Linked DNA regions of Homo sapiens: region 2 is linked to region 1. Evidence: fine-mapped expression QTL. A gene starts in region 1. The other region holds a variant in brackets. All regions are shown on one strand. Distances are between the middles of the regions. Region 1 holds the start of TMEM218 (transmembrane protein 218). Region 2 overlaps CCDC15 (coiled-coil domain containing 15).

Region 1 (5,387 bases):
AACCACTGTTCTAGACACAGTCTTGCATAAAGAGACATGTACAAGGTGTTTATTGCAGCTTTGTTTACAATAGCAAAACATCAGGAAAAAACCTAAATGTCCATCAATCAGGGAACAGATACAATATTATATATTCATAATGAATACTTAAAATGAATGAAATTGATCTATATGTATTGATGTGAATATATCTCAAAAACAATGTTGAGTGACAAAAACAAGTTGCAAAATGGAACCCACAGTATGATACTACTTGTATTTTTAAAATTAAATACAATCTAAACAGTAATATATATTGTTTCTGACGAACGTATATACAGCAAAAGTATAAAAACATGGGCATAAACAATACATGACAATTTCAAAAGACTATTTGCCTCTGCAGAGGGAGGAAGGAAAGGGAATGGGGTTAGGAGTGGAAATAAAAGGGATCTGAACTAAATCTGTGATGTTTTATTTCTTTAAAATAAAAAACTTGAGCTGGTGTGCCAAAATGTTAATATTTATTAATCTGATTGGTGGAACATAGATATTATACTACCCAATGTACTATTTTCTGTTTTTAAATTTTTCGTGATAATTTTTAATTTTTAAAAAGGTAATGGGCAGCAGGATGCATATGAATTGGGTGACCAGTTAGGAAACTATTGCAATTCTCCAGATAAGAGATGATGAGGGTCTGACCTCCAGTCTTAGCTGTGTCAAGGGAGAAGGTGTTAGAAATGACACAAGTTTCTAGCTTAGTTGACTGAGCTGATGGTACTGCTCTTAAGAAAACAACTATTTAAATTTAATTTGTGCTATTCTGGATATTACACAAATAACCCAGAAGACTTGGACCAACTCTAACAGTTAGAATAGAGGGCAAATGGTAGTTGAAGCTGGCTGGCGCCATTAGAAATGTTGCCCTTCAATCCCCCTTAGTAGCTTAAGAGTTCGTGAGACATTGGATTTATATATGGTATGGCTTTAAAGTAATAAGATAAATATTCCCAAGCTCTTTTAAGAATGGAGCTCATAATTTTATAAGCAAACTATACATTTTCTTACTAAGCATAGAAAAGAAGGGCTGGGTATAGTATAGAGTGCTGCTATAGAGGAAGAGAGAACATCTAGTCATTTTTATCTTATTTAAATGTGAGAATAATATCTGTGATAATTTCCCATATTAGAATAGCTAAATTATTGTTATTGAGTACAATACAATAAAATATAAAAACGGGTTCATGCCATCATTAAACCTTCTTTGAGAAGTGATGGCTTGGCCAACCCGATTTCAAGGGTAAGTCCATTTACTTAATATCTGTGGCATTTAAAGCAGGTAGACTGGAGTGAAAAAAAATAATTTAAATTTGAACAGTTCAGCAGCTGACAACAAAAGCAACTACAGGGCTAATGTTTTCCTTCTGTGCTCAATGCTGTGAGGTTTTTCTCTGAGAGAGTTTGTTCAAAACCTTTTAGATGTGTGTGTTCATTTAATGGTTGTTTCTACATACCCTTTCATCCAGCTGTCAGAGAAAATAGGAATAAATGGACTGATCCCTGCACAGGTAACCTAATGGATTAAAAATACGGTACTCATCACCAGGTTGATCATCATGAGCGAGAATACTAACTGCCATTATAAGATGACTTATAAGATGACTTACTATCTAAGACAAATGTGGATTCCTCAGAGGGTAATGTGGCCTAAGTGCTGCTGCTGGAGGGAGATATCTCACCCATCCCCCGATTTTCACACTGACTCAAGCCCTTGAAAGCAACAGAAAACAGTGGGTTACAAGGAGTGAAGTGCTCCTCTGGAAGAGTCCTTTTCACTTTGCTTTATAGCTGTTTTCCAAACCTTCAAAAATAACGGGGGGGGGGGGTTACTTTCACACTTTTATGTTTCTACTTTAAACACTTCACTATCTTTTGAATTTTAAAATATTAGAATAACGCCTCTACCTTTGTAATTAGATAAAATGCAAGCCTGGGGAAAAAATCAGTTGCCAAGCTCCCAAAATGCCACCGATGTAGCATCTGCTCTTAACACGTTGATAGAAAAAGGAGGATCAGTAAACCTAGGTCTCTTCCTTGCATCCCTCTCCTGGACGGTGTTGTGGGTTGGAAGCGCTGCAGAGCCTCGGTCTATCCGCTCTCTGGATCTCACAGCACTGCAGCCTGGGAACACCCCACTTGAACTCTAAGCTTCTCCCCAACCCTGTTGCAGATTCAAACTGGCGACAGGAAAACAATGCCCCCCATGTCTCGTCTTCAGAATGTGCACCTGGCCACCTCCCAGGAGCTAGAGAGGGATTAAGGTCTCGGTCATAAGAGATCTGAATCAGGCACTGACACTTCCTTTTCTTAAGAGCATGAAACAAAACAGTCCTTCCTTCTCTGCCTCCAATTAAGTATTTATTAGCCGGGCCTTGGGTCCAGATCAGCGGTAAGGGTGGTCTGCGAGGTCCGTGCACCGCCGTCCGCCCACGCCTTCTTCCAACCACCTCAGCCCGACCCTCCACTTTTCTCCCTTCCCCGCAGCCGCCCCGCTTTCCTCACCTCTGCCCCCTTCACCTGGATCCACTCTCCCCCAGGCTCTACTCACACCTCAGATTCCGGCGCGTTCCAGCCCACGGGGCTCTGGTTTACTTAGGGCGAATCACAAGTGGGCTTTCATTTAGGTGATTTAAGATTCACTAATCAGCGTTGCTCTTTCAACGGCCAACTTCTTCCTCATTAGCTTACGCCTAGCGCGGCTCCCGGCAACGCCGAGCGCGGTGGGTTGGCTCGTCACCCTTCGTTACGCCCTCCGATTGGTCGGTGCCTGTCAGCCTTTGGACCGACCTCAGTTCGGTTGGGTAGCAGCGGTCCGAGCTGCACTCCCCGCCCCCCCGCCACTCCACTGTCAATCACACCATCTCTCCGTAACTCATTGGGCCATTGGTCAGTCTAGCCTGAGGGCGGGTTGTTGGGCGGAAGAGAGAGACTTCTTCCGGCCTCACTCGCTGTCACCATAGAGATTGCCCATCCAGGCAGCGAAGCAGCAGGGCCAGGCAGCTCAGATCTCGAACTCCAGAGAACTGCACAGTCATCTAGACATCAATGCCTTTTCCGGGGCCTGATGAACATCTCAATCCCCAACCCACTAGCTCGAGTGGGGCGCAAGATGTGGTGGACAAGTCAGCTCAGGCCCGGTCATTAAGTGTCCCCAACAACCCTCCTGGAGGGAACTGAGGACGAAGCACCAGTTGTAATAACGGCACGCTTCATTTATCTTTATCTCGACTTGTTTTATTTGGTATTTAATTCTTCCATTAGCCTTGCGAAACAGACAAAGGCAAAGATCATTCTACCCACGGGACAGACTGGGGAAGAGGCCCAGGGTCCATCAAGTAAACCCTCTGCCGCCAGGCTGCTGGAACTGGAGCTGGCCCACGCTATTGGCAGACTGCTGTTACCTAACTGCCAACTAAAGCTTGCCATGACTTTGCTTTGAGGCTATGGCCTGTTAGACCAAAAGATGCATCAATCAGGACAACCAAAGGAAGTAGGACAGAGGCTGCGTGCTCCACCACTGAATCAAGAAGGGGAAACAAACAATAATCAATACCAAATTGGAGAGCTGCACCGTTTGAACCTTTGACCTTAAACAAAATTTTAAGAAATATCATGAAGCAACCTATTCAATCTTAGAGCACTGAATCTCTGATTTAAGGAATTCTCCTGAATCACAGCTTTATGAACCAAAAAGAAGAAGATGCTTGAATTTCATCAACTGCACGTCTCAAATTTATTCAACTTTCGAGGCTTCATTTACAATCACATAAAGTAACCAATGATTTGTTGTGCGTTTAGCAACTTAACATTACTTGGCCCAGTGAGAAGCTCTGTGGCTAAGAAATCCTTTATTTTGATGAATTCATTTCACTGGAACTGAGTGTTGACTGCAGCTATGTTCTGTTAGGAACTGCGAAGATATACAAGAAATGAGATGTGACTCCCATCTTAATAGCCCGTGGTTTTGTAATGTTAGGTCAACAACACATGAAACAAGTAGGAAACACTTTAAAGCAAGATATAACAATGGGCCAACCCTATTGTACAATTAATTTCTCCAAAATATAATAATACTTCATATTTGCAGAACATTTCGTAGTTTCCAGAGCACTTCTTCCCTTGTATTATTTGGGGGATATTTTGTTATGGCTGGAATTAATGTGTGTGTCTTTATCATAGAGCTAGAACTAATGCTGGGTCCTAGCATATGAGTAGGAACAGGAAAGGTGGAACAGAATCCAGGAGGAGAAAGTAGTTTGAGCAAAGAGGCCAAGGCAAGAATGAGCACTGAGTATCTGGAGAATAATATGGAGACAAATGATGGAAAGTAATGTGTAGACAAGCTGGTCAGAACTGGCTCTGAGACCTTAATATTTTGGAGGAAAGTGGTCAAAAGTTCAAAGTTTGAGATTGGAAAAGTTAACTTCCTTACACTTCTAATGATCATACTGGCTTCAGTTAAGCTATAAATTAAAAATGGGCATGGCTCAACAGAACTTGAGTCCTGTCCTCTCGCTTTTCTCCTTAGGCAGCATGAGCTTCACCATTTGCTTTACCACCTCCACCAACTACCAGTCCCTGCATTCCATCCAGCCACACAGCCACAGCGTCCAGTTCATCAGCAGCACAGCCAAAGTCTATGCAGTCCTCAGGGGCTTGGGCTCCCGGACCTCAGTGTCCTTCTCCACCAGCTTCTGGAGTGGCTGGGGGTCTGGAGGCCTGGCTGCAGGGATGCCAGGGGTCTGGAAGGAATGGGGTACATCCAGAATGAGAAGGATACCATGCAAGGCCTGAATGATTGCCTGGATTTCCTACCTGGACAGAGTGAGGACTCTGGTGACCAAGAGTCAGAGGCTGGTGAGCAAAATCTGAGAGCACTTGGAGAAGAAGAGACCCCAGGTCAGAGCCTGGGGGCATTACTTCATGACCATCAAGGACTTGAGGGCTCATATCTTTGCAAATTCTGTGGACAATGCTTGTGTTGTTCTACAGATTGACAATGCCCGTCTTGCTGCTGATGACTTTAGAGTCAAGTATAAGACGGAGCTGGTCATGTGCCTGTCTGTGGAGAGCAACGTCCGTGGGCTCCACAAGGTCACTGATGACACCAATGTCACTCGGCTACAGCTGGAGACAGAGATGGAGGCTCTCAAGGAGGAGCTGCTCTTCATGAAGAAGAACCAAGAGAAGGAAGTAAAAGGTCTACAAGCCCTGATTGCCAGCTCTGAGTTGACCATGGAGGTAAATGCCCCCAAATCTCAGGACCTCAGCAACATCATGGCAGACCTCCCGGCCCAGTATGATGAGCTGGCCCAGAAGAACTGAGAAGAGCTGGACAAGTACTG
Region 2 (5,387 bases), 110 kb before region 1:
AAGAACAGATAAAAATATCAAAATTGTTCATGGGGTAGTTTTTGGTAATTTTGTCACTTTGTGTGACTGGACCTTCTTAACAGGCTTATGATAGGTATCAATCAGGATTGAGCACTGAATTCCAAGCTCCACTGGCATTTCAGTCTGACGTGGATAAAGAAGAAGATAAGAAAGAGGTATGTAATGATACTGCTTTTGGATCCCAATATTTCTACTATGATAGTATTAATATATGAGAAATTGGAAACAATTTGTTGTGTCCTAACACATAAAAGAGCTAATACCACAAATTTCATAAATCAAATAAAAGTTGCTTGACTCATTATAATGTGTTGAATTTATTTTCCAAGCTCCTATGAGTTAGGGTACATTGATGTGAAATCAATTATTTGATACTAATAAATTTCTCCAGCTAATGTATATTTGCCACTATAACTTATTTAAAGGAAGATAATTACTTTATGGCTTTCTTTTTTTTTTCTCTTTTCAATCTAAAGTTAGTTTAAACCGATAGTTCTTAACCCTGGCCATGCACCAGAATCAGATGGGGAGCTTTTTTCAAAATACAAATATGCCTAGATCTAAACCAGATATACCAAATCAGTATCTGAAAACGGAGGTTTAGGGCATTTTTGTTTTTTAAAAATACCACTGGTGATTCTGATGCATCCTCAGTATTAAGAGCTACTATTTAGAACTTCAGTAATTTTTACCAAAAAGCCCTGCACTACTTTGGTATATACATAGACATGCTTTTTGCTCATCGAATAGCTTGTGTATTTAAAAGAGTATATATAAATCCAGAGGAATGAACAGATCACACACAGTCTAGTAGCACTTGCTTTTATTCTACTTGTTTCATTTATGAGTCTGAGGCTTTAGTATACCTCAGCCCTTCTACCCTCCTCCGTGCCATGTTAGGCTAGGCTTAGAGTATGCTTTTGTGATACTGTTTTAATTTTGAAAAGTTAAAGTAACTATTGGTTCTGTTATGAAATATCTTCTACATTCTTTCTGTGGCTCTGCTTTTATGGTACTTACTACTTGGGAACACAGAGTAAATATTTCAGAGTAACAGAGTAAATACTTTCTCTGGTTTGCCTATTAACATATAATAGCCATGTGCTTGAAAATATAAAATTCTTGTGTATGTGACATCCTGAGTGACCATAGACAGAAGGAAATTAAAGACTTAATCATGTAACTTCTATATCATCTGTTTCTGTTTGCTTGCATTTGTTTTTGTCTATGGTATAAGAATATTTTTCTTCCTTGGAAATTCCTCTGAAAGCAGAATCTTAGTAATTTTAACTTCTTACCTTTAGCGTCAAAAGCAGTACCTGAGACATAGACGACTTTTCATGGATATTGAGAGAGAACAAGTTAAAGAACAACAAAGGCAAAAAGAACAAAAGAAGAAAATTGAAAAGTAAGTTATTCGATCTGCTCTGTGAGCCTTAAATTGCCAATTAAGATGTTTTTGGAAGATGAACTTTAGAAAAAGGTAATGGTTTTGCCCTCTGATCCATATTGAAAACAGCTATTTTTGATCTGGGTGAAGTATTGGAAGATGGTGAACAGCTATGGTTTGGTTTTTTGGTTCGATTTTCTATTAGACTTGATTTTTTTAGGGCAATTTTAGGCTCACAGCAAAATTGAGCAGAAAGTACAGAGAGTATACCCTCTGCCCCACAAATGCGTAGCCTCTCCTACTGTCACTATCCTGCACCATAGTGGTACAATGTATTAGAATTGATGAACCTACATTGACACATTATTATTACCCAAAGTCCATAGTTTACATTAGGGTTCACCTTTGGTGTTAGGCATTCTATGGGTTTTGACAAATACATAATGTCATGTGTCTACCATTATGGTATTATACAAAGTGCTTTCACTTCCCTAAAATCCTCTGTGCTCTGCCTATTCCTCCCTCTTTACACCCTATCCTGTGGTAACCACTGAACTCTCTACTGTCTCCATGGTTTTGCCTTTTCCAGAACGTCATATAGTTGGAATCATACAGTATGTATGCAACCTTTTTAGATTGGCTTTTTATACTTAGAAATATGCATGTACGTTTCCTCTAATGCTTTTTTATGGCTTGATAGCTCATTTATTTTTAGCACTGAATAATATCCCATTATCTGAATGTATCACAGTTTAGTTATTCATTCACCTACTGAAGAACATATTATTTGCTGCCAATATTTAGCAATTATGAATAAAGCTACTTTAAAATCTATGTACAAGTTTTTGTGGGGGCATACATTTTTAGCTTATTTGAGTAAATAACAAGGCATATGATTGCTGGATCATGTGGTAAAAATATATTTAGCTTTATAAGACACTACCAAATGGTCTTCCAAAGTGGCTATACCATTTTGCATTCCCACCAGCAAGGAGTGAGGGTTCCTGTTGCTTGACATCCTTGCCAACATTTGGTGGTGTCAGTATTTTGGATTTTGGCCATTCTAGTAGGTGTGTAGTAGTATCTCATTGTTTTAATTTTCACTTCCCTAATGACATATAATATGGAGCACCTTTTCACATGCTTATTTGTCATCTGTGTATCTTCTTTGGTGATGTGTCTGTTCATTTTGCTTCTTCTTGTTGAATTTTAAGAGTTCTTTGTATATTTTGAATAACAGTTCTTTATCAGTCTTTTGTAAACATTTTTTCCCCAGTCTGTAGCATGTCTTCTCATCTGTTGACAGTATCTTTTGCAGAGCAAAATGAAGTCTGCCTAATCAGTTCTTTCTTTCATGGATTGTGCCTTTGGTGTTATATATAAAAAAAAGTCACTGCCATACCCAAAGTCACTTAGATTTTCTCCTGTGTTACCTTCTAGGAGTTTTGTAGTTTTGCATTTTACATTTTTCTCTATGATCCACTTTGTTAATTTTTGTGAGAGGTGTAAGATCTGTGTTTAGAGTCATTTTTTTTTTGCATGTGGATGTCCAGTTGTTCCAGCACCATTTGTTGAAAAGACCATCTTTTATTAATCATATTGCCTTTGCTCTTTTGTTAAAAATCAGTTGACTGCATTTATGTGGTTCTGTTTTTTGGACTTGGTTCTCTGTTCTGTTCCATTGATCTATTTGTCTATTCTTTTGCCATACCACACTGTTTTGATTATTGTAGCTTTACTTACATATTTTTATTGATACATAATAATTGTACATATTTATGGGATACATGTAATATTTTGATAACATGCA[A/G]TGTATATGATCAAATGTATGATGTGTAATGATCAAATCAGAGTAATTTGGATACCTGTCATCTCAAACATTATGATTTCTTTGGATTGGGAACATTTCAAATCTTCTAGCTGTTTTGAAATATACAATAAATTATTGTTAACTAGAGTCACCCTACTGTGCTACCAATAAGTAGAATTTATTCTATCTGTCTAACTGTATGTTTATACCCATTAACCCATTCTTCATCCTCTCCTCCCTTCCCACCCTCTGGTTAACTATCATTCTACTTTCTACCTCTATGGGATCAGCTTTTTTAGCTCCCACATGTGAGTGAGAACATGCGATGTTTGTCTTTCTGTGCCTGGCTTATTTGATTTAACATAATGACTTCCAGTTCCATCTGTGTTGCAGCAAATGACAGGATTTCATTCTTTTTATGGCCGAATAGTATTCCACTGTGTGTATATACCACATTTTCTTTGTGTCCCTCTGTTGAAGACACTTAGGTTGATTCAATATCTTGACAATTGTGAATGGTGCCACAGTAAACATGGGGATACAGGTATACCTTTGATACACTGATTTCTTTTCCTTTGAATAAATACCCAATAGTGGAGTTGCTGGATCATCTGGAAGTTCTGTTTTTAGGTTTTTTTTTTAGAAATCTCCATACCGTTTTCCATAATTTCTGTATTAATTTACATTCCCACCAACAGTGTATAAGAGTTCCCTTTTCTCTACATCCTCACCAGCTTTTGTTACTTTTTGTTGTTTTGATAATTGCCATTTTAACTGTGGTGAGATGATATCTCATTGTGGGTAAGTTCAGTTGATCCCCAGGCACCCGGATGACAAGCATGAGTGCCTGAAGTGGCGGCAGTGGGTGAGGCAGGCCTGTCCTCAGGTCGTTTGGTTCTATACCTGGGTGCTGGCAACAGTGGGTGTGGCATGTAGCTTTATAATAAGTCTTGAAGTCGGGTAATTTCAGTCTTTCAACTTTGTTTTTCTTTTTTAATGTTGTGTTGGCTTTACCTCTCTACATAAACTTTAAATAAGTTTGTCAATATCCACGAAATAACTTGTTGAGATTTTTACTGAGATTGCAGTTAATGTATATATCAAGTTGGGGAGAACTGACATCTTGACAATATTGAGTCTTTCTATCCATGACCATAGATGATCTCTCCATTTTATTTAGTTGTCCTTTGATTTCTTTCTTCAGTGTTTTGTTGTTTTTGCTCATATAGATCTTATATATTTTTTGTTAGACTTATACCTAAATCTTTCATTTTGGAAATACATATAAATGGTATTGTGCATTTAATTTTAAACTCCACCCGTTCATTGCTGGTATATCGGAAAGTGATTGACTTTTGTATATTAAACTTGTATCCTTCAACCCTGCTGTAATCACTTAGTTCCAGTAGCTTGTTCAGTGACATTTTTGTTATTATATGATCATGTCACCAGTGAACAAAGTTAGTTTTATTTCTTCTTTCCCAGTCTGTATGCCTTTTATTTCCTTTCGTTGCCTTATTTCATTAGCAAGGACTTTCAGTATGATGTTAATGAGAGGGTACATCTTTGGCTTGTTTCTTATCCTAGCAGGTAAACTTACAGTTTCTTACCATCAAGTATGATGTTAGCTGTACATTTTTTGTAGATGCGCTTTTTCAGGTTGAAGAAGTTCTTCTCCATCAGTTGCATTTCTTTTTCTTTTTTTTTGATACAGAGTCTCGCTCCGTTGCTAGGCTGGAGTGCAGTGGCGTGATCTCGGCTCACTGCAACCTCCGCCTCCCTGGTTCAAGAGATTCTCCTGCCTCAGCCTCTTGAGTAGCTGGGACTACAGGCTATGGGTTTTTACTGTGCCCCTTAGAGCTCAACCCCAGTTGTCTTGACAAACTTCATTGTGCCTACTAACTTCTAAACAATGCATAAAAAGTTATAATGAGCTGGGCGCGGTGGCTCACGCCTGTAATCCTAGCACTTTGGGAGGCTGAGGCGGGCAGATCACCTGAGGTCAGGAGTTCGAGACCAGCCTGACCAACGTGGAGTAACCCCGTCTCTACTAAAAATACAAAACTAGCTGGGCATGGTGGCTCATGCTTGTAATCCTTGTAATCCCAGCTACTCGGGAGGCTGAGGCAGGGGAATCACTTGAACACGGGGGGCGGAGGTTGCAGT

Evidence for each region. PIP is the estimated chance that this variant, and not a neighbour inherited with it, causes the effect.
Region 2: its variant is fine-mapped to the expression of TMEM218 in whole blood (TOPMed, PIP 0.96).

Annotation. Positions count from the first base shown.
Region 1 is chr11:125,108,995-125,114,381 of GRCh38, forward strand. TMEM218 (transmembrane protein 218) reads right to left here and starts at 2,632. Exons shown (of 5, transcript NM_001258244.2): 1 at 2,545-2,632. It also overlaps the pseudogene KRT18P59. RefSeq lists enhancers at 2,327-2,416, 2,772-3,684, 3,047-3,226 and a silencer at 2,887-2,956.
Region 2 is chr11:125,003,784-125,009,170 of GRCh38, forward strand. CCDC15 (coiled-coil domain containing 15) reads left to right here. Exons shown (of 16, transcript NM_025004.3): 12 at 84-176; 13 at 1,326-1,429. Among named protein-coding and RNA genes, the nearest start is that of CCDC15, 52 kb to the left of the region's middle. The variant A/G (reference allele first, on the strand shown) is at 3,222.